Linked DNA regions of Homo sapiens. The protein of the gene in region 1 interacts with the protein of each later gene in a biochemical or structural test. Each region holds a gene or a part of one and is shown on either strand. Other genes may lie near its edges.

Evidence for each region. Proteins that work in one complex are often made in the same cells at the same time.
Region 2: the proteins of RAPGEF1 (region 1) and CRKL form a complex in vitro, tested with the Homo sapiens proteins (one study listed by BioGRID).
Region 3: the proteins of RAPGEF1 (region 1) and HCK form a complex in vitro, tested with the Homo sapiens proteins (one study listed by BioGRID).
Region 4: the proteins of RAPGEF1 (region 1) and GRB2 form a complex in vitro, tested with the Homo sapiens proteins (2 studies listed by BioGRID and IntAct, with this or other methods).

The regions. Positions count from the first base shown.
Region 1 is NC_000009.12:131,624,754-131,628,611, forward strand, and holds part of RAPGEF1 (rap guanine nucleotide exchange factor 1), read right to left. Parts: coding exon 3,796-3,858; intron 3,344-3,795; coding exon 3,160-3,343; intron 1,670-3,159; coding exon 1,169-1,669; intron 1-1,168. UniProt on the Homo sapiens protein: Guanine nucleotide-releasing protein that binds to SH3 domain of CRK and GRB2/ASH. Transduces signals from CRK to activate RAS. Involved in cell branching and adhesion mediated by BCAR1-CRK-RAPGEF1 signaling and activation of RAP1.
Region 2 is NC_000022.11:20,927,332-20,931,189, forward strand, and holds part of CRKL (crk-like protein), read left to right. Parts: intron 1-3,858. UniProt on the Homo sapiens protein: May mediate the transduction of intracellular signals.
Region 3 is NC_000020.11:32,069,167-32,073,024, reverse strand, and holds part of HCK (tyrosine-protein kinase HCK), read right to left. Parts: intron 3,338-3,858; exon of another isoform or gene 3,274-3,337; intron 1,364-3,273; coding exon 1,243-1,363; intron 1-1,242. UniProt on the Homo sapiens protein: Non-receptor tyrosine-protein kinase found in hematopoietic cells that transmits signals from cell surface receptors and plays an important role in the regulation of innate immune responses, including neutrophil, monocyte, macrophage and mast cell functions, phagocytosis, cell survival and proliferation, cell adhesion and migration.
Region 4 is NC_000017.11:75,395,396-75,399,253, forward strand, and holds part of GRB2 (growth factor receptor-bound protein 2), read right to left. Parts: intron 18-3,858; exon of another isoform or gene 1-17. UniProt on the Homo sapiens protein: Non-enzymatic adapter protein that plays a pivotal role in precisely regulated signaling cascades from cell surface receptors to cellular responses, including signaling transduction and gene expression.

The DNA.
Region 1 (3,858 bases):
ACCCCTCTGCGGGAGCCCTGGTTTCTGATGAGCAAATATACACGACAGATGGGGATGACATCATTAGTCCCACAGAGCCAGCTCTCCCTCTAGCTGGGGGACCACACTGCTGAGGCCATCACACAAGCTGGGCAACACCCACTGAGGAGCTGGGGATACATGACATCATCGCAGCCGCCGCCTTCTGTGGACCACGCAGCCAGCCCTCAGGGCGACCCTTGCTGGACTGAACCAAGCCAGGTCTTCCCTTCTTTGAGAATGGGGCCCAGCTCTAAGCTGGGCTCAGAAGCTCTCATTTGGGAATTTGGAGTAGAGATTCCATTTCTAGGTCATAGAAGTTCTCTGCTGGATGTGTCAACTGAGGCCAGGGAAGCCTGGGGCTGTGTGGCTAATGTGACCACACACATTGAAACGGTGACAGCTGTGCTGCCAAGAAAATCGAAGCAGAACTATGCTAGTGAAGCAGGGAGAGGGCGGGGACAGAGGGGGCCAGGCAAGTCCCAGAAGTGTGGAGCAGTTAGGGGAGCTAGGAGAAAACCGAATTTCCAGGAGAACTCTCCTTATTACTTTTATGACAGATTTACCGTTGGAAAATATTCAAAACTTCAGCTCCAACCCTGGGCTCCAATAACATCATATATTAAAATGTCTGGTCCAAGAAGTGTGCTGAATTACTCCTGCTGGGCAACCCCAGCTTCCAAGTCATTCTGGGAGCATGAACAGAGACAGTGTGCTCTAGACAGGGATCCTTAGACAATCACTCTGTGGAAACTAGGCAAGTTCTGCTGAAATTCACGTATCCACCTCGCTCTACACAGATGTTGCTGCAATGCTGTCCTGCGTGCCAGGACACTCGTTCCCCTCTGTCACTGTGATCAGGCCAGAAGGTCAACTGCTGCCATCTAAAGAGGAGAATCCCTCAGGCTACATGGAGACCGGACCTGAGATTGTATAGAAACTGTAAAGGAGAGGTCAGCTGATGAGGCTTTAAAAATGATCACGTGTAATGACAAAACCTGGCTCCCAGAAGTGTCCACATACCTGGCTGGCCTATCTTTTATGAAATAATGAGGCCACTGATTTGATTCTGGTCTAATGCTGAAATAAAACATACTGCCATTTCAGGTTATAAAATGCACTTCCTGACAACAGTGCAACAAAGGCTTACTGTGTTTGTTTTTCTTCTCTGGTAGAGGAGGTGGTTTTTCTGGGTCACCGGTTGACTCAGGAGCAGTAAAATCACCCACAAATTCGACAGGGGCTGAGGAACCTCCATGCTGAAAGGGCAGAATAGCAGCAAAGGGCGCGTAGGGGACGGATGGGATCGGGGCTGTGCTCTGCAGGTCCTCCCCAGAGATGTTGTCATACTGCGAGGGATGCCGCTCGTAGGACACCCTGCAGCCAGAGCCGTCCGCCGTCTGGGAGGCTGCGCTCCTGCGCTTCTTCTCGGGGAGAGCAGGTGGCGTATCTGTCTGCTGCCCTGGGGCCAGAGGTCCGTCTGGCTGGGGATGGCCGCCAAGAGGCAGCTGGAAAGGAGGGCCAAGAAATGGAGACCCAGACTCCCCCAAAGACTCTGGCAACGGGCTAAGGTTCCAGGCCGTCTGCTGAGGTATCTGGTCTGCGTTAGAGAGGTCTTGCTGGAGGAATTCATAGTCGGGATCATAGTGGTCTGCAGTTACAACAGGGGAAAAAGAGACCCGTTAGCCACAGGCCCTGCAGGAGCAGCCAGCTCCCCCCGCCCGCCTCTCGCCGGCTCGCTCATGGGTGTGTGACAAAGACCTGTCTCCAGGGCTTATTTTATATTCACATGTTATATTCTTCATTCTTCTCCCTGATTATAAAAGCAAACCAGATGGGAATATGGCTGTTTGCTATACTTTTATTTTTTACATTTCTTATTTAAAAAAAAAATACACAACCATTACGGAAACTGTGGCAAATTACATCAAGAAAATAAAAATCACCCACAGTACCATAATCTAACTGTACTTTCTATTTACATTTTGAAGTATTTCCTTAAATGACTTTTTTGCCTATACAATTCCTTTTTGAAAAAGCCTAACTGAGGGCCACGCGGTGGCTCACGCCTGTAATCCCAGCACTCTGTGAGGCCGAGGCGGGCCGATCAGTTGAGGCCAGGAGTTCAATACCAGCCTGGCCAATGTGGCAAAACCCCGTCTCTACTAAAAATACAAAAATTGGCTGGGCACGCTGGCCCACTTTGGGAGGCTGAGGTGGGCAGATCACCTAGAGTTCAAGACCAGCCTGGTCAACATGGTGAAATCCCGTCTCTACTAAAAAGACAAAAAAATTAGCCGGGCGTGGTGGCACACACCTGTAATCCCAGCTGCTTGGGAGGCTGAGGCAGGAGAATCACTTGAACCCGGGAGGCGGAGGTTGCAGTGAGCCCAGATCATGTCACTACACTCCAGCCTGGGTGACAGAGTGAGGCTCTGTCTCAAAAAAAAAAAAAAAAAAAAAAAAAAAAGAAACAATTGAGAATACTATGTAAATGGTCCTGTACTTTTTCTAGTTATCAATATGAGTGATTTTTAATAGCTACAGATTATTCCAGCAAATGAATGTACCATAATTCATCTGATTTCCTACCAATGAAAATCTTGCTATTAATCACTGATTATGCTCCTAGGATACATTCTCAGAAGTGAAAATATCTAGTTCACAGGATACGAACAGCTTCCTGCTCTCTAAGCCCCCTGCCCAGCAGACTCGGAGGGGCCCGCACAGTACACATTCAGCACTGACTAACGAGAAGGCCGGCTCGCGCGGCTCCCTCCCCTTCAGCCTCTGTCAAGTGTTGTCAGGACCCCCACCCCTTTGTTTAAAGCTCTCAACACAAATGGCTCTTAATTTTGGTAAAGAGAGTCAAATTACTCACTGACAGATGAACTAACAGTCACCGCTTGAATATCTAGGCTGTGGTTTTACATTGTGATTTCATTTACATGCTCAACTTCCTTGGGAGGCAGATACTGTTATCCATATTTTGCAGATGAGGAAGCTGAGGCTCAGATTTTAAACAAGTCAGCCAAAGCCACGTAGTCAATGATTGCATGACCTGGGACTCCCACCCAGGACTGTAATGGCCCCAGAGAAGCCACCGAGACACGATGGAACAGGAGGATGGTGGCGGCTCACCTAGTGTTTCACAGCTTGTGTTCCGGGAGCACTGCCCACTGTCCCTGTCCAGAGAGGACAGCTGCTCGTCTGACTTGCTGAGCTTGCCTATGCTGCTGCAGGGGGAGAGGCGGGGCGACTCTCCACCATATGAGTGGCTGCCTCCTGACAGTCGCCTCTGTGCGTAACAGTCAACATCAAAATCCTCAAGTGGAAAAAGAAAAACAAAGCCAAATCACTTCTGAGAAACGGTGGCACAGACCAGGGGTGAGGCAACCGGTGCATTTACTTAGAGAAGGAAATACTGCCAGGCGAACTCAGAAACCACCTCTGACGTCAGTAGTCGAAGGACACATACAGCTGAGAAGCAGCCATCTGGAGTTTGTGGGGGGTGTGGCCAGGGAGGGCCCTGGGGCTGGACTCACCTATCCCCAGGAGACGCCCTTTGGCTCTGCCCTCCCTGCCCTGACCCTTATCCCCATATGGGAACTTGGACCGTGTCCTGGAGAGAGAGGGATGGGTACAAGGTCTCGCACTCCTCGATGTGACAAACACCAGCGCCTGAAGACCATGGGTTTCTTTCAGCTTCAGGAGCCACATCCCTGAGCCCCCCACCCCCTCCCTGCCTTCCCATGCAGGGAACAGGGGCTGCATTACCTGCCTATTGATTCCAACAGGCAAACTGGAGCCACTGGTGGCTCGGCTCATGGGGGCCACCAC
Region 2 (3,858 bases), on another chromosome or scaffold:
AGGCGCCCACCACCATGCCCGGCTAATTTTTGTATTTTTAGTAGAGATGGGGTTTCACCATATTGGACCAGGCTGGTCTCAAACTCCTGACCTCAGGTGATCCAATTGCCTCGGCCCCCTAATGTGCTGGGATTACAGGCATGAGCCAGTCACCACGCCCAGCTGGAATTAAGTTTTCTACCTTTTTTTTTTTTTTTTTAACTGTGAAATATTTCATACATAGAAAAGAGTAAGGGTGCCGTGGCTCACGCCTGTAATCTCAGCACATTGGGAAGCCAAGACAGGTGGATCACTTGAGGTCAGGAGTTCGAGACCAGCCTGGCCAACGTGGTGAAACCCTGTCTCTACTAAAAAGACAAAAATTAGCCGGGCGTGGTGGTAGATGCCTGTAATCCCAGCTACTTGGGACGCTGAGGCAGGATAATTGTTTGAACCCGGGAGGTGGAGGTTGCAATGAGTTGAGATCGCACCATTGCACTCCAGTCTGGGTAACAGAGCAAGACTCTGTCTCAAAAAAAAAAAAAAAAAAAAAAAAGGAAAAAGAGTAAGCCTGGGCACGTTGGCTCATGTCTGTAATCCCAGCACTTTGGGAGGCCGAGGGAGGCAGATCACTTGAGGTCAGGAGTTTAAGACCAGCCTGGCCAGCATGTGAAACCCATCTCTGTTAAAAATACAAAATTAGCCCGGCAGTAGTGGGGCCCTGTAATCCCAGCTACTGGGGAGGCTTAGGCACAAGAATAGCTTGAACCCAGGAGGCAGAGGTTTTGGTGAGCTGAGATCACACCACTACACTCCAGCCTGGGCAATAGAGTGAGACTCTGTCTCAAAAAAAAAGTATATGTAAGCTGGGTGTGGTGGCATGCACCTGTAGTCCCAAATAGTGGGGAGGCTGAGGTAGGAGGATTGCTTGAGCCCAGGAGTTCAAGACCAGCCTGGGCAACATAAACCCCCATCTCTGCAAAAAATTAAACAAGGATTGGCTGGGCATGGTGGCTCATGCCTGTAGTCCCAGCTACATGGGAGGCTGAGGTGGGAGGATCACTTGAGCCTGGGAGGTCAAGGCTATAGTGAGCCATGATCGTACTGCTGCACTCCAGCCTGGGCCATAGAGCAAGACGCTATCTCAAAAAAATTTACAAAACAAGCCAAAAAAAACTATCATCTGTGTGCTCCCTTTAAAAAATAAATAAATAAAACATTGGCCAGGCGTGGTGGCCCAGACTGTAATCCCAGGACTTTGGGAGGCTGAGGTGGGAAGATTGCTTGAGCTCAGGAGTTCAAGACCAGCTTAGACAACATGGCAAGACCCTGTTTCTACCAAAAATACAAAAATTAATCGGATGTGGTGGCATGCACCTGTAGTCCCAGCTACACAGAAGGCTGAGGTGGGAGGATCGCTTGAGCCTTGGAGGTTGAGGCTGCAATGAGCCATGATTGTGCCTCTGCACTCTAGCTCGGGCAACAGAACGAGATCCCATCTCAAAAAAAAAAAAAAAAAAAAAAAAAGGAATATTACCAGCACCTTTGAAACTTCCTTTTTCTAGAAGTTGATTGTATTGGTTCTTAGCATGCATAAGGAGATTTTAAGCTTAGAACATATTAGCACTTGGTTTAAAGATGTTTTGTGTATGGTTTATACATGTAGAAACTGAGAACGCTTTTAACCAAAAGAGCTGAGAGATTCGTTATCATCAGAAAAGAAAAGTCAGTTACGAATTAGTTGTTAGGGGCTTTGCTGCTCAAAGTGTGTAGTGGACAATAGGCAAAAAGTGAGAAGCATGGTCAAGGGTGTTTGGATGGGCTTGAAAACCCTGTGCATTTTATTTTATTTTATTTTATTTATTTATTTTTGAGTCGGAGTCTCACTCTGTTACCCAGACTGGAGTGCAGTGGCGCGATCTCGGCTCACTGCAAGCTCTGCCTCCCGGGTTCACACCATTCTCCTGCCTCAGCCTCCCGAGTAGCTGGGACTACAGGCGCCTGCCACCACGCTCAGCTAATTTTTTTGTATTTTTAGTAGAGATGGGGTTTCACTGTGTTAGCCAGGATGGTCTCGATCTCCTGACCTCTTGATCCGCCCGCCTTGGCCTCCCAAAGTGCTGGGATTACAGGCGTGAGCCACTGCACCTGCCTTATCTATTTAATTTTTTGAGACGGAATCTCTGTCTGTCGCCCAGGCTGGAGTGCAGTGGCATGATCTCAGCTCACTGCAACCTCCGCCTCCCGGGTTCAAGCAATTCTCTTGCCTCAGCCTCCCAAGTAGCTGGGCCTACAGGCACACGCCACCACACCTGGCTAATTTTTGTATTTTAATAGTGACAGGGTTTTGTCATGTTGGCCAGGTTGGTCTCAAACTCCTGACCTCATGATCCACCTGCCTCGGCCTTCCAAAGTGCTAGGATTGCAGGCATGAGCCACTGCGCCTGGGCAACACTTTATATTTTAAAGGGAAGTTGGGGGAGGGTGCTATTTTCAACCTTGCTCAAAGAACAAATAATTGGGAAGCAATAAATTTTCTGATGAATATGCTTCATATTTCTTTAGACAGTGGGGTCTAATGGAAAGGCTAAGATATCTGACATGGAGCAACATGTATTTATCTCTTCAGTGGAACTAATGTGTAATTTTCAGGGGAGTTTGATGAATAAATGAGTTTGAGAATATAGGGCAGAGGACTTGGAATTTGTGTCAGGGTTATGGCTGGTGAGATTGATTTGGTGTCAAATTTATGAATATCTCTGCAGATACTAACACAGAAAATGAGCCCCAAGGTCACTATAGCAGTATAGTAGTGGAGGGAAATAGAAACTATCTTTATCAAATTTCTACACAGACATACCCCTCACCAGGGAAGCAAGGAAGTTGAAAAGCACACTTTGCCTCCCTAACCCAGGAATTTAGATGGGGGATCAGCAAACTGTTGAGTAAAGGGTCAGATTTTAAATATTTTCAGCTTTTCCATAGAGTCTCTGTCCAACTACTCAACTATGCCTTTGTAGTGAAAAACAGTCATAGACAATACGTAAATGAATGGGCTTGGCTATCTTCTTTTTTTTGTTTGTTTTTAAGATGGAGTCTTGCTCTGTCACCCAGGCTGGAGTGCAGTGGTGTGATCTCAGCTCATTGCAACCTCTGCCTCCCAGGTTCAAGCAATTCTCTTCCCTCGGCCTCCCAAGTAGCTGGGCCTACAGGCGCACGCCACCACACCTGGCTAACTTTTGTATTTTTAGTAGTGACAGGGTTTTTTGTCATGTTGGCCAGGTTGGTCTTGAACTCCTGACCTCAAGTGATCCTCCCGCCTCGGCCTCCCAGTGTTGGGATTACAGGCGTGAGCCACCACACGCCTGGCTTTTTTTTTTTTTTTTTTTTTTTTTTTTTGAGATAGAGTCTTAACTGTTTCAGGCAGTGACGTGATCTTGGCTCACTGCAAGCTCCGCCTCCCGGGTTTACACCATTCTCCTGCCTCAGCCTCCCGAGTGGCTGGGACTACAGGCGTGTGCCACCACACCTGGCTAATTTTTTGTATTTTTAGTAGAGAGACAGGGTTTCACCGTGTTAGCCAGGATGGTCTCAATCTCCTGACCTTGTGATCCGTCCACCTCAGCCTCCCAAAGTGCTGGGATTACAGGCGTGAGCCACCACACACTGGCTAACTGCTTTTAACTATACAAATAATAAAATACTCTTGGATGGAGTCTAAGGTGGAACTGACTGTGCTCTTAATAGTGTCTGAAATTTATATGGTACTTACTGGACTGTTCACAGGCTCTCTGTGGCTCTTGAAATAGCAGGGGCTGGGTGTGATGGCTCACACCTGTAATCCCAACACTTTGGGAGGCCAAGGCGAGAGAATTGCTT
Region 3 (3,858 bases), on another chromosome or scaffold:
GGGTTCAAGTGATTCTCCTGCCTCAGCCTCCCAAGTAGCTGGGATTACAGGCGCATGCCACCATGCCTGGCTAATTTTGTATTTTTAGTAGAGATGGGGTTTCACCATGTTGGCCCGGCTGGTCTAGAACTCCTGACCTCCCAAAGTGCTGGGATTACAGGAGTGAGCCACTGTGCCCAGCCAGGATCCAGGTTTCTTGAGCTGTGACCTCGGCCTTCGGTCTTGGATGTACCGGGGGATGCTGCTTGACCCCTCCCCTCAACACACAGTGAAGGGGTCGGTCCAGATCAGTGTTTTCCGACTAAGTTTGGAGAAATCACAGGCCCACCAGTGATTTATATTCCATAAATAAAGGCTCTGTTATGTATGTGAAACAATCTAAGTGTCCATGCAAGGGGGAAGTGACACCTAAACTATGGCATTCTAAGCAGCTCTTTTTTTTTTTTTTTTTTTTTTTTTTTAAAGAGACAGGGTCTCCCTGTATTGCCCAGGCTGGAGTGCAGTGGCGTGATCATAGCTCATGCAGTTCGAACTCCTGGGCTCAAGTAATCCTCCTGCCTCAGCCTCCCAAAATGCTGGGAGTACAAGTGTGAGCCACTGCACCTGGCCTGTGTTTTTATTTTCAAGAAGAATGTATTTGTGTGTCACACAATAGGATTATTGTGAGGATTAGGGTGTTAATAACCGTAAAGGCTTACAACAGTGCTGGGTTCATAGTCAGCTTTGTATAAACATAAAAGAAGTTGGTAAATACCTCTCCTAGCATGACTGCTTCTCTTTTTACAACTCTTGCTGTTGTTCCTGCTGCTACTCTTGGTCTTATACTCACGCAATTATGGTTGGTACTATTAGTATGACAATTGTTACTGTATTTTTGCAATGCTGCTGATACTACCATTACATTGTCACTTCAGCTGCTATCATTACTGTTCACTCGTTTCTCAGCACTGCTTTTGCTTCTGCCCAGGCCGGAGGCCTGAGATGCTCACTCACACCTGTTTGGTGGAGCTCAGGCTGAGGGGCCAAGCCTGGGCTGCAGGAAAGAGAGATGACTTCTTTGCCCCTATGCATGCTGGCTGGCGCTGCGTCCCGGAGAGTCGAGTCAGGACACTGTTGGTGGCCAGTCAGCTCCCTTTCACCCCAAGCTCACCCTGCCCAACCTTGGGAAGACAGGAGGCTGTTAGGGCAATGTTGGGGCAGCATCCGTCAGCCCCCAGGGAAACTGGGACCTCCCCTACTCACCGGCTTGATGGTGGATGTGGGATCCGGCACGTACACAGGACAGTGTGGGCTGGCGCTGGTTTCAGTTTTTGAGAATGTATTGCCTCCGACCTGGAGGAACTTGGACTTCATGCACCCCATCCTGCAGCAGACAGAAGGGAGGTGAGCCCCAGTTACCAAGAGCCTCATGCGGGGAAGTCTTCTGATGCTGGCATTCCAGGTCCCCTGCCCCCGGGCTGGCTCCCACTGGCCTTCCCGGTCTTAACTCCCCTGCCAGCTCCATGCACCCTTATCCTCCCCACATGGAACCCACTCCATCCTTGCCACCTCTGGGCTTCCCCATGTCCACGTGCCACAGCACTGGCCCAGGGCTGACAAGCTGTCATTGTCGTGGGTACCAAGGACCAGCGTGATGGATGTTTATTCAGAGGATGGCATGAGGATAACAGAAATGTAACAGGTAGAGCTGTTGGGTGGGCACTGCCAGCTCTCAGGTCAGAAAGCCTCAGCTGATCCTTGGCCCCTCCACCCCACCAGCACCTCACTGACCACTTTCCTGCCCCTACCCACCTCTCAGGTCTTCATCGGCAAAATGGGGACAATAATATGACCTACAGTGGGGAAATACTCAGTGCAGTGTCAGGCTCAGAGCAAACACTACAGAAAAACTGCAGTATTATCAGATGATAAATTGCCATTTTTATATTAAATAACAAGATGAGGTCACATAACATGGCTCAAACAATCTAGTTTGTCAAGGCACCGTATTACTGGTATCAATTTATAAATTGCTTATAACTCCTTCCCTCCCTCCCTCCCTCCCTTCCTTCCTGCTCCCCCTCCTCTTCCTTCCCCCTCCTCCTCCTTCCCCTCCTCCTCCTTCCCCCTCCTCTGTCCTCCCTCCTCCTCCTCTTTCTTCGTCTTCTTCCTCTTCCTCTTCCTCCTCTCTTTCTCTCTGTCTCTCTCTGAGTTGTTTGGTAATTCATTCATCCATTTACACAGCCAAGATTTACTGGGCACTTTTCTAAACTGTGAAGAAGAGAAGCAAGTTCACGCCCTCAGGACCTCAACTGCAGCCGAATGGGAGACAGAGACAATAAACAGGCCAACAAATAAATAACAGGGCAAATTGAGTTAATGAAAAGTGTGAGGACAATAAGAGAGGATGCTGTGGGGAACAACAGGTCTGGCTCTTTTAGGCAGGGCATTTGGGGAAGGCCTGTCAGAGAAAGGGATACAGAACCTGCGGTCTAAATGACACAAAGGAGCCAGTGAGGGGACACTCTGAGGGAAGAGTGTTCCAGGCAGAGGGAACAGCAAATGCAAAGGCCCTGAGGCTGGCATGTGCTTAGAGAGAAGTTGGAGGCACTGAAAGCAGGAGAGTGTAGCTGAAGCTCATGGGCAGGGAAGAGGGTGGTTGTGACAAGGCCACCATATCCTGTAGGGCCAGTAAGGACTTTGGATTTTATTCTAAGGATGATGGAAAGTTTCTGGCAGGAGAATGATGGGATTCAATTTGCACTTTAAATAATCCCACCGGTGGCTGAGTGAGGCGTGGACAGTGGGGAGCAGGGGAGGGAACCCTGTGAGAAATCTGCCAAAATTGTTCAGGTATGAGATGATGGTGGCCCAGGGTAGTGTGGGGGCAGAGAGGAGGTAAGCATTGGACAGGTTTGGGGGACATTTTGGAGGTAGAGCTTGCAGACTTTGCTGCTGTATTGAATTAATTTAAGGATGCTTAAACAAAACACATTTACTCCAAGTAGAGTCAAAACATAATTGTAAAAGTGGAAGAAATGTTTCATTTCTTTTCTCAAAATGTGCACACACATTTGCTGAGAAGGCAGGCTGTGACAACCACATAAGGAAGTGCTTGCTTTTCTCATCTCTGCACAATTGCCATTTTCTTCTAAAGCAGTTAGAACTCAGTTATACTTATCTTGTTAAAATAAACATGTATTTGTGGTTTAAGGAAAAAAACCCCAAACTCCTAGGCTTAGATGAGTTACTTTTAAAAATGAAAAAAGATTCCTTTTATTTACAAGGATTTACCTCTTCTGGTGGGAACTGGGAAAGATTTGCCACCTCAAGACTTGAGCGGTTTTGCTTTGTTTGTCTTTTGGAAATAAAATAAGGAACACATTCAGACTCTTGGAGTGCTGGATCATTAATTTGAAAAATTATCATAATTAAGCACAGATTTATAATGTACTTGCATGCATTTAAAACTGAAACCAGCATCTCTCTTTGAGATAAATGTGTATTACAGTTCTGGGAAATTAAACGGGCATCTTGTGTGACATATATGACATAAAATTATATCACATTTCGTGTGTTTTGGTCAGCATAAAGATGTTCTGGGAAGAGCAGCACTGTGTGAGGTAGGGCAGCTCACTCTACCTCTCTGGGCACCCACTGATCTGCAGCTGTGAGTCTTGTGATTTCCAATCCATGCGCGTTGAGCACCTTGTATGCTTCACTTACGTGATCAATGTACATATTCAAGATGGCCACAGGGTCCCGAGGGAGGGGTCTCAGAAGACCTGTGTTCATTCACAATCCAAGGCCATCTCTGAGAAAGGGTGGCAAGGGTTCTACCTCATAGGGTGGTGGTGAGCACTGAGCAAGTTGATGAGT
Region 4 (3,858 bases), on another chromosome or scaffold:
AGAGGTTGATCTGCGAATATTTATACTTGTGTATCCTTAAATGCCCTTCACTTACACTCTCTGTAGTTACTTTGATCAAACTAATCCGTGTACATAATTTTAAAAGTCAGAGTATTAAAAGGCTTATGAAAAAGAGCAGCTCCCTACCAACACCCACAGGCGATCACTCTCGATTTTGTTTTTTGCTTTCTCTTTGTATTTACTTATTTTTCTTTTTTTAAATCTTGTGGTCAATGCACAAAATGGATAGAGTATTTCTAAAGAATGTGCTTTTACTGCTTTCTCAGTTTATTCCAGCCATTATCTATTGCCTGAAAGGTGAAGATTTAGTTTCCCCCGACCTATACCAGTAATATCACATATTCTGGTTTAATCAGTAGTATGTTATGAAATACTACTCACTGATAATTTAAATAATGCACTAAAACCAATCATACTTTTTGTGTTTTTTTTTTTTTCTTTTTTGAGATAGAGTTCTCTAAGATTGCCCAGGCTAGAGTGCAGTGGCATGATCTCGGCTCATTGCAACCTCCACCTCCCAGGTTCAAGCGATCCTCCTACCTCGGCCTGTAGCTGGGACTACAGGCATGTGCCAACAAGCCTGGCTACTTTTTATATTTTTAGTAGAGACGGGATTTCACCATGTTGGCCAGGCTGGTCTTGAACTCCTGGCCTCAAGTGATCCGCCCACTTTGGCCTCCCCAAGTGCTGGGATTACAGGCATCGGCCGCTGTGCCTGACCCAATCATACTTTTTTGTACAATCCTTAGATTTTTCCCAGCATTAGCAACTGCTTAATGTTCTATTTTTTACTTGCCTAGTTCCCTGTGTATCTACTTTTACTTTTTCTTTTCTCTTTTTTTTTGAGACAGGGTCTTGCACTGTTGTCCAGGCACGAGTGCAGTGGCATGGTCATGGCTTACTGCATCCTTGATCTCCTTGGCTCAAGTAATCCTCATGCCTCAGCTTCCCAAGTAGCTGGAACTACAGGTGTGGGCCACTATGCCCGGCTACTTTTTCTATTTTTTGTAGAGACAGGGTCTCACTATGTGAGACCAGTCCAGTATAGCTTAGTGTTGAATTTGCATGGTCTCTAGAGGCAGGCCCCTCACGCTAACTGCTACAATTTTGGGCAAACTTTTCAAACAAGCTCCAGTTTCGTCATCTGTAAAATGAGAATAATATCTACCTTTTAAGACCCAGGCTGGTCTCAAACTCCTGGCCTCAAGCAATCTGCCTGCCTCGGCCTCCCAAAGTGCTAGGAATACAGGGGAGAGTGAGCCACCACGCCCAGCCCTATTTTTACTTTTAATGAATGCTCCAAAATCTCTCCTACTATCAAGATTTTCCTCAGCCTATTTATTTTAACTGGTCTCTAATGCCGAGACTATGTATTAGTGATAGGAAGCTGAAGAATATTTACAATGATAGGAAAAGAATAAGGAGTTTTATTTTTGAAAAACAGAAATCAGATAGAAATGAAAAGCCCTGTCACTTTCAAGGTGCTATGTAGTACGACCAGCCATAAGCTTCTGTGTCATTCAGGATTTAAGACAGCTGCAATGTTACTACTCAACAGCAGTACAAAAACCAAGACAGTTCTCAATACCTGCTTTCCTGCTGCTACTCAGCTCATCTGCTGAAAGCTTAAAAAGAATAACCTTCTTGAAAGTCGTGTTTTGAGTAACTATTGCTTTGTGAGATGCAGAGTTTGACAGAAAATTAAATCCCTACTTCCATGGCTGTGCTGAGTAAAAAAACAGAAAACTCAAAGAGGAAAGCTTATTAGGTTATCCACCCAAAAGAGCATATTCGCTAAAGGAATTCCAAAGGGTGTGTTTCAGTAAAGACAAAAAAAAATCTAACACATACACAACACTAATTACTAAAAGGAAGAAATCTGAAAGCAGACACAATGTATAATGATTTTAACAGAGTAGATGTTGCTGTTCACTTCCCAAGAAAATGGGGTATAGTGTACTTAACACTGAAGCCTAATGAGAGTAACCTCGAAACTGTTACCAGCCCATCCCAAGCAGTGAATTTTAAGAAAGGTAAGTACAGCTTTAATCATTCATTTCAAACAATGTCTACTGTATCCAAAAAAACTACTATCCTAAAGGTATTTGCAAGATTTTTTTTCTTTCTTCCATTTAACTCTCTTCTTCCCAAAATTCACAGAAAATAAAATACATGACAACAGTCCAGTATAGCTTAGTGTTGAATCTTCATGGTCTCTAGAGGCAGGCCCCTCACACTTACAGCTACAGTTGTGGGCAAAGTTGTGAAACAAGCTCCAGTTTTCTCATCTGTAAAATGAGAATATCTACCTTATAAGATCCACTGAGGATTAAATTAGACAACATATATAACATACATTAAGTGCTCTGGATAGAGCCCGACATGTAATAATCACTCAAAATTTATTTATTTATTTATTTATTTATTTATTTATTTATTTTTTGAGACAGCATCTAGCTCTGTCGCCCAGGCTGGACTGCAGTGTCACGATCTCAGGTCACTGCAACCTCCGCCTCCTAGGATCAAGCAATTCTCCTGCCTCGACCTCCCAAGTAGCTGGGACTACAGGTGCGCGCCACCAAGCCTGGCTAACTTTTGCATTTTTAGTAGAGATGGGGTTTCGCCATGTTGGCCAGGCTGGTCTCAAACTCCCACCTCAGCCTCCCAAAGTGCTGGGATTACAGGCATGAGCCACTGCACCCAGCCTTCAAAAGAAATTTTAAATGTTACTCTATTTAAAACATATGAAAAGAAATGCAAATTAAAACAATCAGAGTTTTCATATACTAATTGGCAAATTTTAAAAATATTTATAAAATCCAATCTGCAATACTTTGAGTAAACACACTTTTATTTATTTATTTATTTTTCAGAAAGGGTCTCACTCTGTAGCAAAGGCTGGAGGGCAGTGGCGTGATCTTGGTTTACTGCAACCTCCGCCTCCTGGGCTCAAGGGATCCTCTCACCTCAGCCTCCTTAGTGGGGACTACAGGCACCAGCCACCATAGCCTACTCATTTTTTTTTGTAGAGATGGGGTCTCCCTATGCTGCCCAGGCTGGTCTCAAACTCCTAAGCTCAACAGATCTGCCTGCCTTGGCCTCCCAAAGTGCTGGGATTACAGGTATGAGCCACCGCACCAGGCACAAAGACTTTTTACCCTACCCGGTGTCCACTGACTCAACATTTTGAGAAGTTACTAACTGACAATGTGGCTTGGTGTTACATTATAATAATAAAATCACCACAGAACCCACACTACAGCAAGGAATTAATGAGCTCAGCTCAATCTTTTTGGTGAGTTCTTTGGTAATCTATTGACAACTTTTATTTATTTTTATTTATTTTTTGGAGACAGAGTCTTGCTCTATCCCTCAGGCTGGAGTGCAGTGGCGTGATCTCCGCTCACTGCAACCTCCACCTCCTGGGTTCAAGCGATTCTCCTGCCTCAGCCTCCCAAGTAGCTGGGATTACAGGTGCCTGTAACCATGACCAGCTGATTTTTCTATTTTTAATAGAGACAGGATTTCGCCATGTTGCCCAGGATGGTCTTGAACTCCCGACCTCAGGTGATCCGCCCACTTTGCCCTCCCAAAGTGCTGGGATTACAGGCGTGAGCCACTGCGCCCAGCCTATTTACTTTTATTATTTGAGACAGAGTCTCGCTCTATTGCCCAGGCTGAAGTGCAGTGGAGCAATCATGGTTCACTTCAGCCTCAAACTCCTTGGCTCAAGCCATCCTCCTGCCTTAGCCTCCCAAGTAGCTGGGACTACAGGTGCACACCACCATGCCTGGCTAATTTTTGTGTGTGTGTGTGTGTGGTGACCAGGACTCACCA